Regions from separate parts of the Homo sapiens genome. Here region 2 is linked to region 1. The links come from fine-mapping of genetic effects on gene expression. A gene starts in region 1. The other region holds a variant in brackets. All regions are shown on one strand. Distances are from middle to middle.

The links.
Region 2: its variant is fine-mapped to the expression of ANKAR in monocytes (BLUEPRINT, PIP 0.95).

What each region holds. Positions count from the first base shown.
Region 1 is chr2:189,665,531-189,681,702 of GRCh38, reverse strand. It overlaps ANKAR (ankyrin and armadillo repeat containing), which reads right to left and starts at 7,033. Exons shown (of 23, transcript NM_001378068.1): 1 at 6,873-7,033; 2 at 4,612-5,247. The coding sequence starts at 5,212. ASNSD1 (asparagine synthetase domain containing 1) reads right to left here. Exons shown (of 6, transcript NM_019048.4): 4 at 14,107-15,662; 5 at 13,758-13,939; 6 at 10,872-11,262. The coding sequence starts at 15,570. The coding sequence ends at 10,977. LOC105373793 (a long non-coding RNA gene) reads left to right here and starts at 7,418. Exons shown (of 2, transcript XR_923692.3): 1 at 7,418-7,872; 2 at 8,310-8,583. It overlaps ASDURF (ASNSD1 upstream open reading frame), which reads right to left. Exons shown (of 4, transcript NM_001353493.2): 4 at 15,302-15,662. The coding sequence ends at 15,592. RefSeq lists an enhancer at 6,648-6,907 and a silencer at 6,958-7,377.
Region 2 is chr2:189,732,666-189,743,793 of GRCh38, reverse strand. ANKAR (ankyrin and armadillo repeat containing) reads right to left here. Exons shown (of 23, transcript NM_001378068.1): 17 at 10,565-10,687; 18 at 5,953-6,111; 19 at 5,112-5,229; 20 at 2,343-2,452; 21 at 320-519. Among named protein-coding and RNA genes, the nearest start is that of OSGEPL1-AS1, 25 kb to the left of the region's middle. The variant C/A (reference allele first, on the strand shown) is at 7,290.

The DNA of each region.
Region 1 (16,172 bases):
AAAAGGGTAAATATGACAAGCAGGAGGTCTCTGAGACCCTGCTCCAGCATTATGGCTGACGTCCATTCTGATTGCTCAGTGCCAATACTGTGCTGGTGGTTAAGTGTTTTGAGTATCAACCCTGAAAATGTAGGTGTAGAAAGCAGACAGCATTAGTCCTTTGGTGCTCTCTGTTTCCACCTACAACTTGATTAGAATGTTCCTATGTGTCTCTGATCCCCTTACCAGGTGCACCATTGCAAGGGAATCCTCATAGAGGGTGGCAACCTCAGATATGACACACAGATGGGTGAAATAGACCAGATCCTGGGCCATGAAGTGGCTTGATGTAACTAACTTTGTCATCAAGTAAGCAAGAGCCCTCTTCCCTTAGTTACACAACAGGACATGTGCTCCTTCCTGCCATGATCAGGTCTCTACTGGTGCTCTAACTGGATGATCCAAAGGCTCTCGTGGCTTTAACATGTGGATGATTAATCAATATGTATCTAACCTTTATCACTTTCTAGAATTTGACTTCTATACTGAAAGTTTCCATCTAGATATCTGGATCTAAAAAGAGCTTGTTGTTTCTTTACCAGTTTGGCATATGCCCATTCAGAATGATGGCTCATCAGTCCCACGTCCTCTCAAATGAGAGCCTCAGGTAAATTTGTAAAAAGGGAAACAAAAGTAAACACAATTTCGTCAGAATGTCAAGGCTCTACCGCTGTTGGAAACTACCAAGCACTCTTGCTGATCCTTAACCTCCGTGGACCTCAGATCTTCACAAAGCTCTTGGCATCACCTTGATCCAGATAAATTACCTTTAAATTTAAAAAATGGCTTAACATTCTCCAAGATAGATCATATGATAGGTCACAAAACAAGTCTCAATTAATTTAAGAAAATCAAAATTATATCAAGTATCCTCTCAGACCACAGTGGAATAAACTGGAAATTAACTCCAAAAGGAACCCGCAAAACTATATAAACACACGGAAATGAAATAATCTGCTCCAGAATGATCTTTGGGTCAACAATGAAATCAAGATGGAAATTTAAAAATCTTTGAACCAAACGATAATAGTGATATCAAAACCTCTGGGATTACAGCAAAAGTGGAGCTAAGAGGAAAGTTCATAGCAGTAAATGCCTACATTAAAAAGTCTGAAAGAACACAAATAGACAATCTAAGGTCACACCTCAAGGAACTAGAGAAACAGGAACAAACCAAACCCAAACCAAGCAGAAGAAAAGAAATAACAAAGATTAGAGCAGAACTAAATGAAATTGAAAGAAGAAAACAATGTGAAAGATAAATGAAACAAAAAGCTGGTTTTTTGAAAAGATAAAATTGATTCACCATTAACTAGATTAACCAAGAAAAGAGAGAGAAGATCCAAATAAGCTCAACTAGAAATGAAACAGGAGTCATTATAACCGATACCACAAAATACAAAAGATCATTCAAGGTTACTATAAACACCTTTATGTGCACAAACTAGAAAATCTAGAGGAGATGGATAAATTCCTGGAAATATACAACCCTCCTAGATTAAATAGGAAGAAACAGAAACTCTGAACAGACCAATAACAAGTAGAGAGCTTGAAACAATAAAAAATTGCCAACAACAAAAAAGTCCAGGACCAGATGGATTCACAGCTGCATTCTATCAGACATTCAAAGAAGAACTGGTATCAGTCTTACTGAAACTATTCCAAAAGATAAAGAGGGAATTCTCCCTACATTATTCTATGAAGCCAGTATCACCCTAATATCCAAACCAGGAAAGGACATAACAAAAAAAGAAAACTACAGACCAATATCCATGATGAACATGGATGCAAAAATCCTCAAGAAAATACTAACGGAATCTGACAGCATATCAGAAAGATAATACGCCATGATCAAGTGGGTTTCGTGCCAGGGATGAAGGGATGGTTTAACATATGCAAGTCAATATATGTGATACATCATACAGACAGAATCAAAAACAAAAATCATCTCAATAGATGCAGAAAAAGCATTTGACAAAATCCAGCATTGCTTTATGATTAAAACCCTCAACGAAATGGCCATAGAAGGGACATACCTTAAGGTAATAAAAGTCCTCTATAACAAACCCACAGCCAACATTATACTGAACAGGAAAACACTGAAAGCACTTCCCCTAAGAACTGGAACAAGACAAGGATACCCACTCTCACCACTTCTATTCAACATAGTACTGGAAGTCCTAGCCAGAGGAATCAGACAAGAGAAATAAATAACAGACATCCAATTTGGTAAAGAGGAAGTCAAACTGTGGCTTTTTGCCAATGATAAGATCATATGCCTAGAAAACCCTAAGGATTCATCTAAAAACCTCTTAGATGCCATAAAGGAATTTAGTAAAGTTTCAGCATACAAAATCAATGAACACAAATCAGTAGCACTGCTATACACCAACAACAAACAAGATGAGACTCAAATCAAGAACTCAATCCCTTTTACAACAGCTGCAAAAAACAAAATTAAATAAAGTTAAATAAAATAACATAACATAAAATAAAATACTTAGGAATATACCTAATCAAGGAGGTGAATAATTTTTACAAGGAAAACTACAAAACACTGCTGAAAGAAATCATTGATGACACAAACAAATGAAAACACATCCCATGCTCATGGATGGGTAGAATCAATATTGTGAAAATGACCATACTGCCAAAAGCAATCTACAGATTCAATGCAATTCTCATAGAAATACTATCATCATTCCTCACAGAACTAGAAAAAATAATCTTAAATGTCATATAGAACCAAAATGAGCCCACATAGCTAAAGCAAGACTAAGCAAAAAGAACAAATCTGGAGGCATCACATTATCTGACTTCAAACTATACTACAAGGCTATAGTTAACAAAACAGCATGGTACTGGTATAAAAATAGGCACAGAGACCAATGGAACAGAATAGAGAACGCGGAAATAAAACCAAGTACTTATGGGCAACTGATCTTTGACAAAGCAAACACAAATGTAAAGTGGGGAAAGGGCACCCTTATTCAACAAATGGTGCTGGGATAATTGGCAAGCCACATGAAACTGGATCCTCATCTCTCACCTTATATAAAAATCAACTCGAGATGGATCGAGAACTAAATCTAAGACCAGAAACCATAAAAATTGTAGAAGATAACTCGGACAAACCCTTCTAGACATTGGCTTAGGCAAACAGTTCATGACCAAGAACCCAAAAGCAAATGCAACAAAAACAAACATAAATAGATGTGACCTAATTAAACTAAAAAGCTTCTAAACAGCAAAAGAAACAATCAGTAAACAGACAACCCACAGAGTAGGAGAAAATATTTGCAAATTATGCTTCCAACAAAGGACTAATATCCGGAATCTACCAGGAACTCAAACAAATTAGCAAGAAAAAAACAAACAATCCCATCAAAAAGTGGGCAAAAGCCATGAATAGACAATTTTCAAATGAAGATATACAAAAGGCCAACAAACATATGAAAAATGCTCAACATCACTAATTATCAGAGAAATGCAAATCAAACCACACTGAGATACCATCTTACTCCCGCAAGAATGGCCATAATTTAAAAATAAAAAAATAATACATGTCGGCATGGATGTGGTGAAAAGGGAATACTTACACTGCTGGTGGGATTGTAATGTAAACTAGCACAACCACTATGGAAAACAGTATAGAGATTCTTTAAAGAACTAAATGTAGAACTACCATTTGATCCAGCAATCCCACTACCAGGTATCTACCCAGAGGAAAAGAAGTCACTATATGAAAAAGACACTTGCACATGCATGTTTATAGCAGCACAATTCACAATTGCAAAAACATGGAACCAGTCTAAAGGCCCATCAACCAATGAGTAGATAAAGAATACGTGGTGGCCAGGTGCAGTGGCACATGTCTGTAATCCTAGCACTCTAGGAAGTCAAGATGGGATGATCATATGAGGCCAGGGGTTCGAGGCCAGCCTGTTCAACACAGGGAGACCCCATCTCCAAAAAAGAAAAAAAAAAAAAGAAAGAAAGAAAATATATATACCATGAAATACTACTCAGCCATAAAAATGAATTAAATAATGGCATTCACAGAAACATGGATGGGGTTGGAGACCATTATTCTAAGTGAAGTAACTCAGGAATGGCAAGCCAAATATTTTATGTTCTCCCTTATAAGTGGGAGCTAAGCTATGAGGACGCAAAGGCATAAGAATGATATAATGGACTTTGGGGATTCTAGAGGAAAGGTAGGAAGAAAATGAGGGATAAAAGACTACACATGGGGTACAGTGTACACTGCTCAGGTGATGGGTGCACCAAAATCTCAGAAATCACCACTAAAGAACTTAGCCATGTAACCAAAAACCACCTGTTCCCCCAAAAACTATCGAAATAAAATTTAAAAATTTTAAAAATGGCATTGAATAAAAATAATTAAGAAGTGGCCAGGTGCAGCGGCTCATGCCTGTAATCCTAGCACTTTGGGAGGCCTAGGTGGGTGAATGGCTTGAGCTCAGGGGTTCGTGACCACCCTGGGTGACGTAGTAAGACTCTGTTCCAAAAAAAAAAAAAAAAAATTTAAGAAGTGTTAAATTCTCTTACCTGCTGAACTAAACTCTGAAAAAATGTCTTTATTTGTTTGAGGTTTTCCATCAGGATCAATGTCCATGATGGCACGCCACAATTCAGAGAATCTAGCTCGTTTTTCTTTGGGCATATATATTCCATGCCATAGTGCTTTCAGCATGTAGTCAATATTGATCAGAATTTGCCCAATTCTGGTATCATAATAAGCTGGAGGTAATTGACAAGAAGAACTCTGATCATAATTAGCTTCTAAACTGATGGAAGGGATTTGATTTAGGCAATAAATTCCAATAGCCAACTCTCTTATCATTTGATGGACCTCTCTATAGTCTAAGAGGGCAGTAGGGTCCACGGGAGTCAGTAGGATTGCAGTGGAGAAGCCTACGTTATTCATTTGACTCATAATTCCACATGGGAGGTCTACTTGAGAGCGCACATCCTCTTTGGCAGACAACCAGCTAACTAGTGCAGTAGTTAGTAACTCTTGTATTTCACTCCGATCATATTTTTCAAAAAAAGCAGATGCATTTCTTTGTATTGCTAAATTTTCCAGGTAGGTGTCTTCATCCTGAACTTGCTCAAATCTAGGTAATCCTTTTTTGGGCAATCTTAACATTTCTAATTAAATCTAGTGTGTCCTTTTTGAAGCTTCTGCAATGAATAAGAAGGAAAAGATTATCAATAAAATCTGACATGCCAATGAAACTGGATTTGTCTAGAAATAAATCTGTACCTTTCACCTACATAAGATTAATTTTTCATGGTCAACCATTATAGTTTTCAAATTAAAAATAACTGCAGTATATGAAAACTGAAATTTGAATTAAAATAATTAAAATTATAAAACCTTTATCATTAACCATGTTCTGCTTTTCAAAGAATTCAAAAGACAAGAAGATGTATGTCAAAAAGAAACGTTAAGTTTATCTGTGAGAAGCTACTGTTACATACCTATTTTGTTGTTGGAGAGGCATTCTTTTGTATATGTTCGTGTTAGTCTGTTTGTGTTGCTATAAAGGAATACCTGAGACTGCATAATTTATAAAGAAAAGAGGTTTATTTGGCTCACAATTCTGCAGGCTGTACAAGCATGGCACCAGCATCTGCTCAGCTTCTTGTGAGACCAAGCTTACAATCATGGCGGAAGGGGAAGGGGAGCCAGTGTGTCACATGGTAAGAGACGGAACAATAGAGAGAAAGGGGAGGTGTCTACTCTTAAACAACCAGATCTTTCATGAGCTCAGAGGTAGAGTTCACTCTGCCAGGAAAGCACCAAGCCATTCATGAGGGATCCACCCCCATAATCCAAACACCTCGCACCAAGCCCTACCTCCAACATTGGGGAATCTATTTTAACATGAGATTTGGAGGGGATAAATATCCAAATCATATGGATATTTATTTTGTTTTCAGTTTTTTAAAGCAAGACTATACTGACCTGCATGAAAGAAAAGAAAAGGGTGGGGCGCAGTGGCTCATGCGTGTAATCCCAGCACTTTGGGAGGCCAAGTCGGGCAGATCAACTGATGTCAGGAGTTCGAGAACAGCCTGACAAACATGGAGAAACTCCGTCTCTACTAAAAATACAAAATTAGCCAAACGTGGTCGTACATGCCTGTAATCTCAGCTACTCGCGGGGCTTGAGACAGGAGGCTGAACCCAGGAGGCGGAGGTTGCGGTGGCCTGGGCAACAAGTGTGAAAAACACTGTTTCAAAAAAAGAAAAAAAAAAGAAAAAGAAAAGGAAAGAAGCATTTGCTTAACCTTCAATTTCTGTGCCAATGAATGCCTGTCTATTCCTGAAATAATAATAACCACAACTACTATTTATTGAGCCAGGTTCTTTACTATATAATGGTTTGATTTATTTCATCTGATTGGTCTCTATTATATAGTGGTTCTCAAAATTTAGCTTGTATCAAAATCACCTGGGGCTTGTTCAAATACAAATCGCTGAATCCCACCACTGAGTTTCTGATTCAATGAGCTGTAGTGGGGCCAGAAAATATGCGTTTTAGTAAAGTTACAGGAAATGCTGATAGTGCTGGTTTGGGCGCCACACCTGAGACCCCAGGTCAGTGAGTCAGACCTTGTTATGCCCACTTTATAGAGGCAAAAACGGAGACCAGGAGGTTGCAGGACAAGTCTGAGGTTTTACGCCTTTCAGAAACAGAACCCACGTCTGTCCAGTCAAGCCCGGGACCCACGTCCAAAAGCAGCTCGCGTCAGCCATGGGCACGGGAAAGGGGAAAAAACAAGGAAAGGGGAGGAACCTACTCTAGAATGGCTGTTTTCTTGTCCGGGAGAGGGACGCTGCGTCCGCGGCGTTCCCGTGGGGCTGAGAACAGTCGTCGCCGCCTCAGATGGCTTCTCGCGGGGCCTTGAATCCGCCCTCAGGGCCTCCGCAAGGGCGAGCGGGAGGCGCACCGGAAGGAACTGAGAGGAACTTTCAGGGCTTTTCGCCCCACCGTGGCGGCCCGGCCCTCCTCGCCTCGCCGGCCAACACTGCCGCCGCCCGGGCGCGGGTCGAAGCGGTTGGTCCTCCGGGCCCTGGGGTGGCTGGGCTGCTCCTCGGGCGGAGCCTGCGGGCGACTAGGCCTGGTGCGTCCCGCAGCAGCCGCAGCGCCCCCAGGCGGCGCCCGGCCCCTTGGCTGGCTCAGACCCCCCGCGTGCGCATCATCCCAAGCCCGCTTAGCGCTTAGTCCAGCGGCATGCCGTGGGCACTGTGCCGCCCTCACTATCTGCCTCTGCTAAAACACCGAAACAGAGTAGCAGAGGAGACAGCGCCGGGCGTTGAGGCAGTCCCGAGTTGGAATACCACCTCCATCATCATTCTTTCATTCAACAAGCATTTATGGAACACCTATTATGAGTCAGGCACCCAGCTACAAGCTGGAAACCCTAGAAAACAGGGCAGACACGAAACCCCAAGGAGCTTACAGTTGAACAGATCATCTCACAGCTATATTTAACAGTGTGCCAATATTAGATGGAATGACAGCACTCGAATGAAAGCTAACCTAGCCCAGGGCTAGGAAAGGCTGCCTAAGGAAGTGCCCTTTTCCCCTCCGAGCCTAGAAGATGGAAAAGAGCTACCCAAGCAAAGGACTGGACAAGTAGCTTTTCAGGAACAGGGAACAGCAGGAGAGAAAGAATTGAAGTGAGAACAAAGTTGAAATGGTTGAGAAACCGCAAAACCCTGCTTAGAGAACAAGAGAGATGTGGGCACAAACCGAGCTGCTGAGGTGCGCGATGGACAGATCATGCAGGCTGCTGAGTAATGATTTTGAATTTCATCCCAAAGGATTAGCCTACAGTAGTGGCAGTGGAGGTGGGGCTCAGGGACTGTGGACAGATTTGAAAAATAATGAGGTTGCCTGTTGGTGACAGATTGGGGATATGTTGAAAAAGAAGGTTGTGTCCAAGTCAGAACCACATTTCTGTCAGGAGCAACAGGATATCAGGGCAAGATTAAGAGTTCAGTTATGTACTAATTGACCTTGAAGTACCTGTGAGAGAAATTGAGATGTGAGATATGCTTTAGATAAACAGTTCTGGGCTAAGAATGGCAGTAGGGGTTAGATGTATAAATTTTGGCAGATTTATAGTAATTGAAGCCAGGAGTGGGGTTGAAATCACCAAGGGAGAGCGTGCAGAATGAGGAGTTGAGAACCAAGGATTAGAGACCTGAGAAATTTAACATTTAAACGTCAGGTAGAGAGAGTGAAGTCAGCAAAGAAGACAAAAAGAACAGCCAAGAAGGCAGGAGGAAAACCAAAATTGGTCACAGAAGCCAAAGAAGTGTGTGGAAAAAAAAAAAGGAATGGCCAACTTTATCGGATGCTGCTGCTCGGTCAGGGGAGATGAGAACAAACTTCCACTGAATGCAGCAGCTTGGAAGTTCTTGGTGACTGTTTGGGGCAGAATTTCTCTTCCAGTAACCATGTCATTATTTTAGCTACTATGGAAATAAATATTAATAAATTTATGAGGACTATTCCAGGGCTTTTTTTTTTACAAAGATTTGCATGTTTGCACTTAAGAAATATGAACCATATATGTACATTCTCCTACTTCAAGGATTGTTTCCCCCTGGGTAGCCAAATGGTTTGTTCCATGTGTCTCAAATCTTCGGAAAGAGATGCCTCATTTTTTAAAGGATCAACACAGAACTCCATCCCAGAGCTAATGGGATTGAATAGCAGAAGGTTGTAAATGCCCAGGCCCTCTTGGGGTTCACACACATGCATGTGTATCCTCTCTCTGTCTCTCTCAGTATTCTGGTGGAGCAGATGACCTGGAAATTCCTTATAAAAGTTTGACTGATTAATACATTTAAATCTCATAGAGTAGAGTAGCACCTGGAATATAGCATTATGTAAGTTATAGCTATTTTCAGTATTAAACTGTATTGGTGTTATAATATTCAATTCTAGGCCGTGGGGCAAACCTCTTAAGTTCATCTACTCCCAATATAAGCAATGTCAATTTAGTGCTCAGGCCCACACAGACACTTGAAGTTGTCTGCTTTCAGATTGAGGGATGAAAGCTATGTAGGCAGTATCTAAATTTTGGTTGAACATTGCATCTTCCAGGGAATAAATTCGGGGCATGTGAAAGCCTTTGCCAGGTTACTGACCTGTTTGTCCGGATCCTAAAATTTATTTGCTACTGTGATTAAAGAATCAAAGGGTGGCCAGATCCAGAAATGGTGTCGATCCTAATGGACAGATTTCACAGTGACACTGGTATGGCAGTTAACAGTTGAGTAATGTGGGTGGATGTCAGGTTGGAGTAAATAGACAAAAAGGTGGAGAGAGTGACTGTGGATGAGAGGCAAGACATAGTAAGTAGAGGAAGACGTAATTATTCTTGTCTTCAGGTTGAGTAGGCTGAGGAGGAGAAGGGGCTGTCTCGGGGTGGCAGAGGCAGAAAATCCACATATAAGTGGAACTGCACAGTTCAAATGTGTTGTTCAGGGGTCAACTGTAGTCTTTAAAAGTTACTGGGGTGGGAAAATGAGCTGCCTAAAAAGATGTAATAGAAGTAACAAGTACTGTTCAGGAGGATGAACCTCAAGCAAATTGTTTAGCTTCTTTAAACCTGTAGTTCTTTTATCCATGAAACAGGACCCTGTCTAAACCATGGTCCCTGAAGAGAGGGAACTGAATCATTTCTGGATGGAGTGATCAAAGAGAGTGAGTCTGGGAAAACAAACTGTTTCTCTTCACTCTCACACAACACTTCTGACACCAGATGTGTGGATTTTTTCCACCAGATGTGTGGAGAATTACCAAGCAATTCTCCAGCTCTCTGAATACCAGCTGGGTATCCTACAGTTTAATCCTGCCTCTATCTACCTGGAGTGAGTGTCAGATCCTTCCATTTAAGGGCTCAGTGCCATAAGGTGTCTCTGCTTTAGATGGCAATTTCAAGTCTGGATCTCTGGTACTTCTGATTGACCAGCTACATAAACTGGGGGTTTTCATGACCCCCTATTCAGGTTCGATAATTTGCTAGAATGGCTCACAGCACTCATAGAAATACTTATGTTTACTGGCTTATTATATAGGATACATCTCAGGCACAGCCAAATTGAAGAGATGCATAAGGCAAAGTATTAAAAAAAATTAAGATGAGAGGGAGCTTCCTTGTCCTCTCTGGGCATACCACACTCCCAGCACCTCCACATGTTCAGCAAACCAGAGGCTCATCAAATCTTGTTCAAGAGTTTTTATAAAGTTTAATAGACCTTAATTTTCAGCACCACTCTCCCTCCCAGAGGTTGGTGGGTGGGGATGAAATTCCAACTCTTCTAATCACTTGATTTTTATTTTTGTTTTTATTTTTATTTTTAGAGACAGGGTCTCACTGTCGCCCAGGCTGGAGTGCAGTGGTATGATCCTAGCCTCACTGCAGCTTCAACTTCCTGGGCTCAAGTGATCCTCCCACCTCAGACTCTTGAGTAGGGAGGCACATGCTTCCATGCCCAGCTAATTTTCTGTACTTTTTTTTTTTTTTTGGTAGAGATGAGGTTTCATCATGTTGCCCAGGCTGTTCTCAAACTCCTGGACTCAAGAGATCCCTCTGCCTTGGCCTCCCAAGCTGCAGGTGTTAAAGGCTATTTAGAGACCTCACCCTAAGTCAACGCATTAGCATAAACTCAGGTGTGATCAAAAGGGGCTTATTATGAACAACAAAAGATATTCCCTATCACTAAGGAAATTCCATGGTTTTAGAAGCTCTGTGACAGGAAAAAATGAAAATTCAACCAAATGAACTTTAAAACTACTATGTTATACAATAGTAAAGCAGCAGAGTATCTTACTTTTATATAATTATATAAAAACTTATTTTTATATTGTTACATTGTGAATCACATTACAATTTAGTCTCCTTTTCAATAGAAAGATTTTCTAAGGACATGATTTGGAGCCGTCCACATTTATCAGATGCCTTTTCATTAATTTTTTCCATTTTTGCAATTCTTGATCCAAACTGCATGGCCCGTTTGGGCAGAAGAGCAGAGGCTGTAAGACCAAGTTCCACAGCTGCAAGGCGTAAAAGTAATTTTTCACCAATTCCTCGGGGTAAAGTCAAGTTTGCTTTTTCCCAAATCGGCAGAGAATTTAGAAAGGAGACAACATTTTCATCCAGGAAAGGAAATCTAAAATAGACAGATAATATAACCACTATGTAAAAATAAAATCAACCTGCTTTGATTTATACACAGTTTTATAGCTAAAATTTAACCAAATTGTTTCACAACATGACTAATTTTAATACATATACTACAAAATAGTCTAAATCTCAATAAATAAATTAGGTTTATTGTGTCCAGAAATAATTTCAAATTGTTTTACAAGGTATCTTTGTGGAGGCCTTGAAAACAAACATGATTTTTTTTTTTTTTTTTTGCCTAGGTGAGCACTACCGCACCCAGCTAATCTTTGTATTTGTTGGTAGAGATGAGATTTCGCCACATTGCCCAGGCTGGTCTCGGACTCCTGAACTCAAGTGACCCACCTGCTTTGGCCTCCCAAAGTGCTGGGAATACAGGAGTGAGCCACCGCACCTAGCCTACGAGCATGATCTTAACTAACTATTCAATCTGTGTCTGATCTTTATCAGGTCTAAAGAAATGACACTTTAGGGATATGGAACCAATATAGAAGGGCTCCACAGTCCTGAACCTGCAAAACACTTATGGTAAAATTTTGTTACTCAAAATTGTTTAATTATACTTAAACCAATTAAATGGTGATAAATTACTGTAACAGAACAAAATATTAGATTTTTTTCCCCTAAATTCTGGGATGACCTAGAAACAAAATATTCGATTAAAAAAAAACTTTCTGCCCTTTTCCTTCCCCAATTTCTAGAAAATTATGTTCTTTTTCTGTTTAAAATACTTTAACACCCACCATCCCACATCTCAAAATGCAATACAGTTACACTAGTGTTTCCGTTTTATTACATCCTATTCTAGGTTAAGAGATTGGAAAGGACAAAGACATTTGTTATCTGGAATATTACATAAAAATGAATGAGTTGCAAAAGCAAATTTAACTAGAGAATCAAATCAACACACTACTGTTAATATGTATGTCAAGATACGTAATAAATTATTTAGATCTAGCCACTATATTTGTTATATCACAATTCTGTATTAGCTGCTTTAAACATTCTTCATATGCATTTTTATTTGAGCATAATATAATACTTTCATAAGTAAGGGCTTTTACTAGACAAATTCCTTTCTCTATGACCTAGCTGAAATAACAGACTGAATTTCTACCTCTCTCATGTCCTTCAAAGAGAAAACAGTTTAACAGTTTACGGACTTTATTATGGCATTAGTTATCAGTTTATAGTGAAATCTTGAAAATTATGACAGAATAATGACATAGTAGCTAAACTTTTACATGGGCTAGGACCAGAAACTTAAGAAAGACAACTGTGTAAAGGCAACTACAAGTCAGTGGAAAGAGGAAAAGACTGAAGTAGAGACAAGAAACAATGAAGTCAAAGAGAGAGAGAGAGAGAGGGAGAGAAAGTGTAGTATGTTTAATTCTCATGAAGCTTACTTGGACTTCCTATTCTTGGATGCTTGCACCCTTGTAATAAACTACCACTTAATCAATTAGCCTACTTGAATGAATTTTTGCTCTTTATAACTAAATGTCACATCTTCCTTTATCCTTACTTAATGTTTTAGAAAGTTTTATTCAAATACTGTACTTGTTCACTACCTTCAGAAATATGATATAGGTAAAAATAAACCTGAAAAGCAAGAATACATACATGAAAGTGCCTTGGTTTCTTTGAAGGTTTTAGGTAATCTGCAATATGTAACTAAATTGTGTTCAAAAAACGTGGCAGAGGAATATCCAGTGTAAGGACTACCTTCAAATCAGCATGGATCTGTACATACAGAAATGTCTATAGAGACAAAGCCAGTTTCTATAACACTGGAGAAGGCTTGCAGGTGGGGCTTATGCCCTTACTGGGAGGAAAGCAAACATTAAAAGCTGAACAAAACCCTCTAAATACCTTCTCTTAGTATTTCACTATCTCAGTTTTACTCTGTTTTTTTGTGGAAACAGAGTCTCGCACTGTCTCCCAGGCTGGAGTGCGGTGGCGCGATCTGGGCTCACTGCAACCTCCACCTCCTGGGTTCAGCCATTCTCAGCCTCCCGAGTAGCTGGAACTACAGGCATGCAGCACCATGATCAGCTAATTTTTTTGTATTTTTAGTAGAAGTGGGGTTTCATCATGTTTACCAGGCTGGTCTTGAACTCCTGTCCTCAGGTGATCCACCCGCCTTGGCCTCCCAAAGTGCTAGGAAGACAGGTGTGAGCCACCATGCCTGGCCTACTTTGACAGTATTTTTCACTATAGTCTTAAAAACAATCCTGTCATTATGTTACCTTTGAAAATTACTGAAAAGACATTTCTTAGAGAATGAGTTCTAGAAAATAAATGCTCTCCTGGCTCTTCCCAGCTCTGTTTCTGACTTTGTTTATAATACAAAGCCAAGCTATTATTGCTGCTCTTATTCATGTGAACAGTCTCCAAAGAGAAAACAAACTTTAAAGTCTCCATTTACACTCTGCTGTTTTTATAAAAATACCGTAAGAACACTCAAATGATTAGAATTACCTTGCTTCTTTTCCATGATCACCAATAACTCTGTCATCACGACCAAGATTTCTAGAAGAAATTCGACCCAGTTCCATCATTATTTCCTTATTCAATCCTTCCAGCCCATGCGACTGAAAGCGGACACGATGACGAGAATAACCTGCAAGTTGCTCATCTGCACCAATTCCAGTGAGAACTACCTATGAGGTTTAAAGAAATCCGTATAAAAATGTTATCAACTACACAGTAAAGAAAATAAGATAAATGCACCTAAAATATGCTATATTCTTACAATCAAAATGCTAAAAGCTTTAAGGGTCAAAAATAGGTCTCAGGAATTCTCAGGAGAAGAAACACTGTGTCATACCTTTGCATTGCTCTGATAGGATTTCACTCCTTCCTGGGCCACTAACCAACCAATTCCTCTAGAAGCAAACCAGACTGCACAGCCAATGCTATCATCCAAAACTGTATCCAATGGCCGAATTAAGTGACATATTCGAGTTCTTCTTAATTTCTGCAGTTCTTCCATAGAAACATTAATTTCAACAAAATTCCAAATTCGGGAAGGGCTAACAGCTTGTAGTTCCTTTAGTCCCGCCCTTCCTGTGATTCGATCTGGTACACTGACATGTTTATTAGGACTGTCAGCAGCAGCAGCAGCAACATCTTTAGAGAATTCTTCTGAAGGTATTTCACATTTATTTTTCTGTTTATTCCCTTCTCTGTTAAAGGTAGTTGGCATGGTCTTTTCTTCAGCTATGAAAGCTACATTAAGAAGATCAATTGGTTCATCTAAAGGAATATGACGGTCAGCAAGGGTTGCAATAACCATGGAATCAATGCCCCCAGAAAACAGGATTGCAACATTTGCTTTCCTATCACACGTTTTCAAAACTTCATTTGCTGTCAGGTTTTCATCCCTAGGTAAACACAAGACACGTTTCTTGACTGCTACACTCAGGACATCAATGAACTGCTGAATTACTTCCTTCATGTGTACATCAGTAAGAAAGACTTGAAGTATCTCTCTTGTAGGTGGCACATTGGAAATATTACTGCAATGAGTCTCCAATGCAGCTTGTGGCAACATCATATTTAAAGGAACAACAGGTTTTTCAAGATACAGTTTGGCTTCATTTGCTACCACTGATACAAATGCTGGTAAGTCTGCTGAAATTTGACTCAGGCTATTAACATTTTCTTCAATAATATTCTCCCTAGAAATATATTTCCAAGGATACAGTTGTAAAATAATGCATCCGGAAATGACAGTAGACTTAAGATCAATTCTGAAAAGTCCAGATGCTGGAACTTCTTGCCACTGATTTGCCAATCCAGATGTTTGGGTGCCAACTGAAGAGAGGCAGAAACTCTTGCCCAAATTACTAAAATGCCAAAGCAAGCTACGGCGACCAAAAAAATCCCTACCAAACCATAAATAATGACTAGATGCTTGATAATATATAAATGACCAGGGACCTTGTACTTCTGAGAAGAGTGACAAAATCTCAGATTCATTCTTACAGGAGGAAAGATAATTAAACAAAATTTGAGTGTCATTCTCTTCAGCTTCAACCTTTATTCCACTAAAAATTTCTCCATTCCATAGAAACACATTGCCTCTTTCATCTTCCACAGGCTGGGTAGTCAAAACACCCCTCAAGTGTAGGACGTGAGCAGAAAATAAACACTGGTAGTTAACATCAGACTTTAACAATTGTTTACTACTATTGGGTCCCCGCTGTTTAAGATTATATAGTAAGTCCTCTTTTAAATCTTGACTGAAATGCTCAGCAGAAAAGTTTACAGAACAACAAATGCCACACATTGTTATGTGAAATCAGGTTGACTATTTCTTGATTTTGGTCTTGTCTAAGTTTTCTATTTCTTGGTATTCTTTTTTCAGTTCATCCAATATATCTGTTGCAGGGAAGGAGAATAAATATTAAATAACATAAAAATTCTTGGACTTTTACCTAGCAATTCAGAGGGCAACACAAGCTGTTTACCAAAATCAAACCATATAAACACACACACTGTGCCAGTACCAATGATAATTAACAACAGGCTACTAATAAAGAATGTTTATCTTTTAGAAAAATAGCTTCTGTTTTGCCGAGTGCTGATTTTGGCCCAAGCACTTGGCTAAGCACTTTTAACATAGCATCTTATTTAGATCCCACAATACCTTGGAGGCTTAAAGTATTTCACCCAAAGTCACAAAGGTAGAAAGTGGTAATGGTTTGTCATACTTAGACCTGTTTAAAATTCTAAAGCACATGTTAATAACTATTGCTTTCTAAAACATTTATAATATATATATATATATATATATATATATATATATATATATATATATATACACATATATATATAACTGTTGACTCATCTTCGGAAGCCTAATTTGAAGAAAATCAAACTGCTGCATTA
Region 2 (11,128 bases), 65 kb before region 1:
TCCCTAGTCTGCTAAAAAGTGACTTCTTGAATCAGATGTTGTGGTAACCAGTCTCCCCAAAACTTTCTAAAATGTGAATAATCCTGGCCAGAGAGGATCTCTAAGATCTAGATGTGTTCTTGTCTGCACCCACAACTCTGGTGCTGAGTTGGAATTAAAACAGGTTGTGGCAGTGGTCATTTAGAATAAAGTTTATCCTCTGCTATACAGGAGATATGTTCATATCAAGAATAGTTCCTCTTGTTGGATCTTACTAAACCTCATTAAAGTCTCCTCTATCGATGATTTCACTACTGCAACTTCTAACATAGGACCATACCTTAAGGAAGGAAGTCCCACCAGTGTTTGTTGCATTTGAAATTCCTTTAAAAATGCTGGGTTAATACTTGCATCTCTGCTGATATTATTTTTTATACGAATGAACTGATTAGGTTTATTCCTGCATTCTTTTAATAGGATGCGGAAAGCATTTGCATTGTATGTTAAGTAGCCAAGAGCAGAGGAACAAGCTGCACGAACCTAAATGAAGAAACAATTCTTTCTTAACCAGTGGGCTTTGTTCTTAAAATATCTTAATGTTCTAATTAGCTATTTCATAGGAAAGTCTCTGTAAGGGAGGGAGCAAGTGTAAGCAAATATGTATGCAAACAAATGGCAGTGTATAGACGGAAGCTTAACTGCCATATTTTTACAGAGAGCTGTCAACTGCCATTGATTTCTAGTGGTTGTTCTCAGTCTTAACTGCATTTTAGAACCACCTGGAGTGTTTAAAAAAAAAAAAGCCCACCAACTAAATCAGAATCCTTTCAGGGGTGTGTGTGTGTGTGTGTGTGTGTGTGTGTGTGTGTGTGTGTGTGTGTGTGTGTGTGTGTGTGTGTGTGTGTGTGTCAGGTAATTCTAGTGTGTGTGTGTGTGTGTGTGTGTGTGTCAGGTAATTCTAATGTGTGTGTGTGTGTGTGTCAGGTAATTCTAATGTGCCACCAAAGAAAGAACTTGAGTTTGAACTAAGGTAGTGGATGCAACCCTGACAATGCATTAGCATCACCCATATAACTTTGACAATTATGCCTGGGTTCCATCCCTAGAAACTCTTATTTAATTATTTTGTTTATCATTCTCAAAGGAGTAGGAACAGACACTTTGGAGAATAGCTAAGTGGTACACATAGGAAAGCTGAACTCTTGGTAACAGAAATCTTAGAGAAAGCAACTTATTTATTTATTTATTACTTTAAAAAAATTTTTTTTTAACATTCAGACGTTACAAGAGCAACTCACTTTTCCACTGGCAAAAACAGAAAGAAGCACAAGTGTCAGGCCACAGGACTCTAGAAAAAATAGTTCTTTGAAGAAAATACCCTCTGTCTATGACCCATAGATTGGTCATATGATTAATTAAAGTATGTTCCTGGCCAGTTGTAGGGAATATGATAGTAGCATAAAAAGTTTCATAGAATGAACATATTGGTCTTTATGTTGGCATCCGGTTGCTCTGTATGCTCATATGTCTTCTAAACCTTGAACCCTGGACCTGTAGTTCAGCTGCTGGGAACTTGTTCGAAATGCAAATTCTAGGGCCCACCTCAAATGTATTGGCTCAGAAACTCTAGGAATGGGGCCAAGCAATATAACAGGCCCTCCAGGTGATTCTGATATACCCTAAAGGTGGAGTAACACTGCTTTAGACCTTAGTGGAAGAGAGTAGGGGAACACTCAGAGGCAAGCCACTGCTGTGACCAGCACGGCCTCTTTCACACACCCTTACATCTAACCCTGCTTGACACATAAGGAAAGCTATCCTATGAATTCCATTTTCATTCATTTCAAATCATAGAAATAACTTAGATCAGAGTCACCGGTTTTCATTAGATACTTAGTAAACAATTATAAGTTTCTTTGTCATCAACGTACTTATAGATTGACTCTTAATTCCAGGATTAAGATGACTTATTTTGTAGGGTTTTGTTTTTGTTTTTTAAATCAGAAACTAATTTGAACAGGTAGTTCTTTTTAAATCTTTAATTGTAGTCGTTTTATACTGCTTTTGTGATTAAAATCCTAATTTTAAGTCTTAGGGTTAAAACAAATGTATATTTTTATAGGAATTAAAATTGTGGATGGCAGATATGTATGACTAATTAGTATTAGAAAAGTCATGTAATTTTGAGTTAGTAACAAGAACTATATTATATATATAACACAGTCATGTAATTTTGAGTTAGTAATAAGAATTATATTATATCTATAACACAGTCAATCAGTGGAAAAATTAGTCCACAGAGGGAGAGGTAAATTATATTTTTAGCATATTTAATTTTAGAATTAGTTTTTGCTTGTTTTTACCTCTTCTATTCCCGAGTACAAATGATAGCAGAGCCGTTGGATTGTTCCTAATGTGGTAAATGCTTCTGGGATACCAGCTCTAGAATGAGCCAGGCTTGCTATTAAATTCCCTATAAATTAAACAAGAAAAATGCTTGTGTTATTTAATTGATATAAACTTATAATACTTTCATTAATTGCACATAGCACTGAAAAAAGTTTGTGTCACAAGACATCTCTGTCAATGAAGCAGCACTGAGAAAAAGCATGCATATGTAAATATAGAATAAACTCCCCAAAATTACAGTTTGGTTTTCTGTCACAAATAGTGTAAATTAAATAGGTTTATGTAAGGGTGAAAAATTTGAAAATTAGAGGTTTTCTTTCTCCCATATCTTCAGAATATATTTTGTTTTGAAGTTTTTAGGGTTTTAAAAATAACTATGAACATAATGATTTAATTATCATAAGAAAATTTAGGCCGGGCGTGGTGGCCCACACCTGTAATTCCAGCCCTTTGGGAGACCGAGGTGGGCAGATCACCTGACTTCGGGAGTTCGTGACCAGCCTGACCAACATGGAGAAACCCCATCTCTACTAAAAATACAAAAATTAGCCGGGCGTGGTGGTACATGCCTGTAATCCCAGCTACTCGGGAGGCTGAGGCAGGAGAATCGCTTGTACCTGGGAGGCAGAGGTTGCAGTGAGCAGAGATCGTGCCATTGCACTACAGCCTGGGCAACAAGAGCGAAACTCCGTCTCAAAAAAAAAAAATTAATATGTCCTTTTTGCGGTTGAAATGGCTTTGAGTTAAGCCTTATTAATACTTTAAAATCAATCAATGTATTGCTTATTGAGGTTTAAAAATCACTGAAGTTTTTACATAAAAGTAAATGTTTTCAGATTTAAAATAATAAAGTGTCCCAATAATTAAATGTGCAGCTAGCAACTGAATATTATTTCATTTATATTTGTTTGAAGATAAAAATGTATTTTCATATTTCTGTGTGGAGTATGTGGATACTTTATTGAGATATGACGTGAGTTTTTGTTCTCCTTATATTTTTGTCTGGCCTCTATTATAAGCCAAGAAATTCCTTGTGTTTATTGCCTCCGAATGGGGAAAATTGGTTGTATCATCTAAAGCAAAAATTGTCTAAAGGTAAGCTCTATTTAAAGTTAAAAAGACCCTTTAAAGATGGGAAGTTAGAAATGGAAACAGACCAAGGGAGCAGCTAAGAAAGAGAACTAAAGTTTATAGTTCTCAAAGGAGTAGAAGGAGGAACTCCGAGTAGAGAATAGCTAAGTGGTATAAATAGGAAAACTGAATTCTTGGTAACAGAAATCAGTTTCCTAAAAACTTCTGTGCCTTTGGAGCATCTTCTGGAAACCATGTCAACTTGACACCAAGCACATCAGTTATTTTACACTATACCTGAGGCCTGAATATCAAGCTTTGCCTGAGATACCCTGGACATGCATATGACTGGTTGTGGAGTGCAGAGAAAGTCCAGTAATTTCTGAGATTCATTTCTCCTCATCCTGGAGGAATTAATTTAATATTTGAAAGCCAATGTAATATGGCATTTCTTTCCTATAAGAGTTTGTGGAGGCCAGGTGTGGTGGCTCATACCTGTAATCCCAGCACTTTGAGAGGCCGAGGCGGGCGGATCATGAGGTCAAGAGATCGAGACCATCCTGGCCAACATGGTGAAACCCCATCTCTACTAAAAATACAAAAACTAGCTGGCCTTGGTGGTGCATGCTTGTAGTCCCAGCTACTCGGGAGGCTGAGGCAGGAGAATCGCTTGAACCTGGGAGGCGGAGGTTACAGTGAGCTAAGATCGCACCACTGCACTCCAGCCTGGCAATAGAGTGAGACTCCATCTCAAAAAAAAAAAAAACTGTGGAGTCTAAACCCACTACAGTTGTTTTTCAGAGTCACAGAATTACTATAACATTGAATTAATAATGTTATTTAGATTAAAACATATTTAATAACTTCTTTAAACTTTTTTTCTAGCTAGTTTCCATCAGAAAGTTTTCATTGCTTCATTTTTCCTTCCTTGCCATGCACATATACTTCATAAACATGTAATTCTATGGCATCAAGTAAAGTTTCCTTTAGTGATACATTTTAATTAAAAAACAAATACTTATTTGTTTATATTGGTAGTAGTCACTGCATATTACTCATTCTGACCCTGCCTTATGTTACTTTAAGAGTGGCATAACAAGTCAATTAAATATTACTGATCACCTATTATGTGTGAGCTGTTGGGTTAGGTCTGCAGTAGACACAGTTATACAATAGCAATAAATGTGTTGAGAACGCTATGGGACCATCTTGCTTTGCTTTGTTGCACAGCGATGTAAAGAACTTTTCAGTGTTAGCAAAATGTGCACAACTGGACAAAAGGAAACCAGACAGAGGTACATCTGTGTAAATCTGCCACCACTATTATAAATCAGTTTTTTTATTTTGCTGTTTGTAGGTCATAGGTGAATTCTCATTTATATCTTGGAAAAAAAAGTTAAGGGTTTGAAAAAGTAATTAGGAAAGCAAAAAGTCTGTATTCAGAGTTACTCAGCTTCTGTTTGGGGTACAGAGTAGACACCCATTGTTTCGTGTAGACTTGCTGTGGAGTTCCATGTAGATATAAACATAAGTTCGTTCTTTAAACTTGTGGCAGTGTATCAGGCGTATTATTTTATTATTATTCAGATTACAATAAACTGTTTTTGAAAATAGTTTTATGTGGCTAAAATTAACTTCTAGTCATTTCTTACCTGTCAAGACAATAGTAGAAGTCTGAACTGAATACAGACTATCAACTAAAATAGTAACACCTCTTGCAGACAAAGTAATATGGTCCATATCTCTAATGACTTTAGCCAGTACAACAATCTGAAAACAGAAAAGAAGCAGAGAGTCTTTGAACATTTTCTACTCAGCTTCTCTAATTACACGTTTGTCATTTTTTATGTTTTTTTTTTAATTCTTTTGATACTTCTTAAAGGGAGTGTTTAGAGGATTCAATAGAAGCAGCATGTGGTGGTGGGGAGAGTTAGAGTATTTGTCCCTGTCTGGTCATAGCAGTGATCATAGGGGGTACTATTATTCTTCCTACAATGTTTGCAACTTTTGCACCCTTTCAATATGGGTTCATAGAAATTACTTCTCTTAAAGGGCACAGGATAGAAAATGAAGAGAGAGAATAAGACTTCCCAGATACATACAGTTGTTACTAGGTTGAAGGATCAGTGTGATCAACTAAAGATTTGCAGTTAGAAAACCTGTCTTGGATGCTAACATGTTTTTCTACCTATTTACTTTTAATATGGGGGTGATGAAAATAATACTACCTGATTGTCAACCTTACAGGCTTGTTATAAACATCAGATGAGGTATAAAGGCATAAGCAAGTGTCTTATAACTTGTAAAATTCTGTATTAATGAAGAAATCCTCATAGATAATGGAGTTTTTATGAGGTAGAAGGGGCTTATGTGCAAAGTACTAAGTTTTTACAAATAAGTAAACGTTTTTCTGGGCCTCCAAATTGTTGTAATTTTCAAGTTTTCACAAAATGACATATTTATTAATTTGAGGTGTTAATCTCAATTTTATACCTGAAATGCTGCCATTGCCTTCTCAGTTTCAACTGTTGATTCAAGAAAACGTTCAAAAATAGATATGGTCATTATTCCACTTTCCAATATTAAGTATTGTTGAAAGCGATTATTGAAGGCAAAAAGTGTTAATGCATAGCCTGCTCTTAAGCAAATATCCTAAAAATAGGAGAAACAGGCATTATGGTGAACTTCATTTATCATGTTACTCAACATAATAGACTTTAAGTTCTTGCTCATTAAAATATATTGCATTCTTATCACTGGGAGTAAAATATGACATTACTAGGGAAAAGAGATAATAGTTACTCTAGAATGTTGTAACTTTCAACATTTCAAAGTAGAGTTGATAAATCAAAACTACCCTTGTATATAACATGTTATCTATTGCATTCCATACATTGTTGGGTATTCCATATCAATCTCTTAAATTCATTTGTAAAATTCCATTGTACTATATTTTAAGGAAGAATAGGAGAAAAATAATGTATTCTGAAGAATCACATTTTAACATTCTGAGGCTGGGCAAACAGCAAAAGCTAGTTTCTTCTGTAGAATTAGTCTGCTTGCCAGAGATATATAAGTATGGCAGACCTTCCAGAAAGATTCAAAAGATAAAATCTTATTACTAAATCTTATTTTTAATATTAAAAATAATTCAATATATTGTATTATTAGTATGTTATTTGAACAATGTATTACAACAGAAAGAACTCATTCATCTTGGTGAATTTTCTTTTCTTTTTTTTTCTTTTTCTTTTTTTTTTTGAGACAAAGTCTCCCTCTGTCACCCAGGCTAGAGTGCAGTGGCGTGATCTTGGCTCACTGCAATTTCCACCTCCCAGGCTCAAGCAATGCTCCCACTTCAGCCTCCCAAGTAGCTAAGACCAAAGGCGTGTGCCACCACACCTGGCTAATTTTCTGTATTTTTTGTAGAGACAGGGTTTTGCTATGTTGCCCAGGCTGGTCTTGAACTCCTGAGCTCAAGGTGTCTGCTCGCCTTGGCCTCCCAAAGTGCTGGGATTACAGACATGAACCACCACACCTGGCCCTGAATTTTCTTCTGCCACTGTTAATCATAATATTAAAATGCTGCATGTACATACTGAAATATTTATAGATAAAATTATATGATGCTTGAAATTTGCATCAAAAATAATTTAGTAGAAATGAGTAGATGTATAGATGAAATAAGATTGGCCATGAGATGATGACTGCTGAAGCTGGGTGGGAACATTTAGGTTCATTATGCTACCCTGTCATTTTATATATATTTGAAATTTTCCATAATAAAAATCACATACACACACACACACACACACACACACACACACACA[C/A]AAAACCCAGTCACCTAAATAGGCAAAAAGAAAGGTATTAGGTACAGTCAAAGGCTTGAGAAACTAGGTCTCATTCATAGTCAAAGCGTGGATTAACAGACAGCAAAATAGAACCTAGAGCCAAGTAGGAAAGAGTGGCAATGGGAAATGAACCAAAGGGGCATGCTTTGTGTATCAAGGTCAGATAGAGCGAAGTGAGAGAAATATGCTAAGACTTGACTGATTTCCATTTCTTTTCCATGTAGGGTTCACTCCTGCGGTATCACTGTGGAAGTCTACAGTAAATAGTTTAGATTATAAAGTGGCTATTAATGTTTCAAAATGAATCCCATAGTTTGACTGCTCCCACCATGCCAGGTAGTATCAGATACAGGACAAGAACCAAGTTGGCTATTCCCAGTTCAGAAGGCTAAAAATTAATGCTTGAGGAAAGACATGTGTTTCCATACTTTTCTTCCCCAATGTCAACTGTCTTAAACTCTTTACTTCATATATATTTTCATTTACCTATCTACCAGGGTGGTTATACCCACTGGTTACTTATTGTTACTTTATACCCACTGATTTATAAATGGGAAAAGAGTGCCTGTTAATTATGCTCACTAACCTCTCTTCAAAAGTATATTCATAATTAATTAGCCCACATATTTGAGTTAATTAAAAAGAGTAGAATAACAGTAACTAAATTAATGCAACTAATTTTATGTGGCTTGTGAAAATCAATCTCAATGGTCCATTTCATATATTATTCTAGTTTGGTAGCATGAAAATAGTTAAATTATAATTTAAAAACAACACATAACCTATTGCATCTCCATGTAGACAGTATCAATGTGGCTAGGAGTTACAAGAACCTGGGTTCCTGACTTAATTTTTATTGCATTCCTGTCATTATCCATAAGATAGCTATTCATTCAGTGACATATTTAATGTTGCTGAACATCCCTCCCTCCCCTCTAACTTCTACAACACACCTGTGTAATCTGAAGTCTCCCACTATAGGTTTAATGAAGGATAGTTGTTCAGTACTGTCTCTAAAGCCCTAAGAGCACTAATGTGCCTCTGCAGGGCAGGTAGTTTGAGGCAAAATATAGTACAAGAAACCCTGGAGGACTTTTAACTTGCCTTGTGATGAGTGTTAGAATTAAAAATTTCAGCCAAGGCCGGATAAATCCTTTGGTTAAACCTTCTAGTTCTCTAAGATTCCCTACCATTTGTAGAACTGATGCACAAGAATAAATCTATTATAAGCCAAATGCAGGGTCCAGAGAGTGAAGCAGGTGGTAACAAACTGGGAAGGAAGGCAGAATACTTGAGAGTGGAATGTGTAACAAAAGGGAGAAGAAGGGTGCACATGAGGAGTAAGGTAATGGGAGTAAAAGCTAGAAGGAACAGAGTAGAGGGGCAAAAGGTGGCTTAGAGAGTCAGGTAGACATTCATTTAGTCTCCTCACCCTATTAGTTTCCACATATATATATATTTTATATATATATTTTTTTTTACTCTACTGTAAATATATATATATATATATTCTCTTTTTTGAGATGGAGTCTAGCTCTGTCACCCAGGCTGGAGTGCAGTGATGCAATCTCGGCTCACTGCAATCTTCACCTCCCAGGTTCAAGTGATTTTCCTGCCTCAGCCTCCCAAGTAGCTAGGACTACAGGCATGTGCCACCACGCCCGGCCAATTTTTATCTCTTTAGTAGAGATGGGGTTTCACCATATTGGCAAGGCTGGTCTCGAACTCCTGATCTCAAGCGATCTGCCCACCTCGACCTCCCAAAATATTTCCCATATTTTTATAGCAGCACTTCTCTTTTGTGTACCACAGTAGAATAAAATTTTGTATTAAAAAAATAACATGACTTAATTCCCACCCACCTCCTGACCCTCCTTGATCCCTCTAAAACCTTACAGAACTGAGAGAAACGTCGCTGGCAATTTTCTTCCTGGTTGTGAAATGCCCTGTAGAAAATAGCTCTCATTTCCTTAGGGTAGTGCTGTTGAAAGTGTGGCCCGTGGACCAGTGACAGTCCACAAAATCATTAACAGTGGGATAACAAAACTGAGAATAAACATTGAAAAGAAACAAATCTTCTTTATAGTTGAATACCAACTAATAAACGTAGAAGGAAGAAGGGAATTTTTTTAATTGCCCTTAGGCAAATGTTACATTTATTATTGTTGCATCAATGGATGCTAAGATTGGTGAGCAAAAGTGTGATGCAAGACAAAATATTTGCATAATCTCAAAGTGTCTCACCTTAAGATACTTATTAACTACAAAAGGAAAAACAGCGAAGAACTATGGCAGACCCCATTTTAACCGAGTAATCAAAATTAAGATTACCAGTAAAATACATCAACGTTATATACCTCATGCTATGATGTACTGGGAAGGTGAGTGAAGAAGACCACATCACTTCTGTGATATTCTTGCCAAAAGGTGTAACTTCAATTTAATTAGGGGAAAACATCAAGGTCAAATTGAGGGATATTCTATAAAATAACTGGCCTGAATTCATCAAAAATGTCAAAATCATGAAAGACATGAAATCATGAAAAACAAAGAAGGGCTGAGCTTCACAAACTGGAGGCTAAAGAGACAAGACATTTAGATGTAATGTGAGACCCCGATTAGATTCTGGAACAAAAGTAGACATTGAAAAAAATAAAAATAATTTTTTAAATTAAATAAAAAAAACAAAAAAGGGACATTGCTGAGAAAACTGGCAAAATTTAAATAAGGCGTGCAAATTAGTTAATAGTATTGTATCAATGTTAATGTTCTAGTTGACATTTGGGAAAACTAGATGAAGGATATACCAGAATTTTGGAAAGTCTAAGATTATTTCAAAATTTTTAAAGTTAAAAAAAATTATCCTTCCATAATAGATTGCTGGGAAAAAGCTATTTCTTCATCATAAATAGTTTGAGAAGCACCCCTTTAGCATATTGGATAAGTGAATGACTGAGGGCTGAAAGGGCATAAAATTATTGTAAAGGTTTGATTTGGGACATAAGAGATTTGTTTTTTGACTCATCACCAAACATTAAAATTACTGCATTTCAACGATGAAGTGGGACAACTCAGAAAAATATGGAGCTGTATTATTACATCATTACAAACTAATGACCTACAAAGAGATCTTTTACATGTCTTTTCTTAAACAATACATTGAATATTGCCATGAAGAAGACTTGATAATTTGAAGATGTGGTATAAAAACCATTTTTTTCAAAATGAACCTCAATATTTTGTAAAGGTATTACCTTTTCTGTTGAGTGAAGAAGATAAAGGACATCAGCATATTCAAATCCTTCATTTTCATGTAAGTCTTTCTGTAACACATCATTCCCTAGGACAATGCATGCCAAGGAAAATGCCACTTCAACCTAAACATGTGGTTTTCAGAAATTACTTTTCAATTATGCTTTATGAAATTACACATTTCATTGTGCAGGCATTTATATAGAATACATTGTGGAAAGATACTATAAAATCTGCTAAAATATAATCCATTGATTCCAGTTATCTTACTAGCGAAAGAACTGCACTTACAACTCCCTCATAATTTTTAATAGCTGAGAAAATATCCTTTCTGTGTTCAGGGACCAACCACAGAGCTCCATTTGAGGGCACTGGAGAAAGGAACAAGGGCGAGCAGAGCATGTAAGGAGGTATTATCCTAAGTACATAGTTGTATCCCTTCCATATTAAAAAAAAGTTCTTTTAATTTTTTGACATGGATTAAAAAGCTATTTTGAACTGCTTGTTAACTACTGACCATTGAGTTGTAAGGCTTTAATGCAGCACCTTTTTTTTTTTTTTTTTTT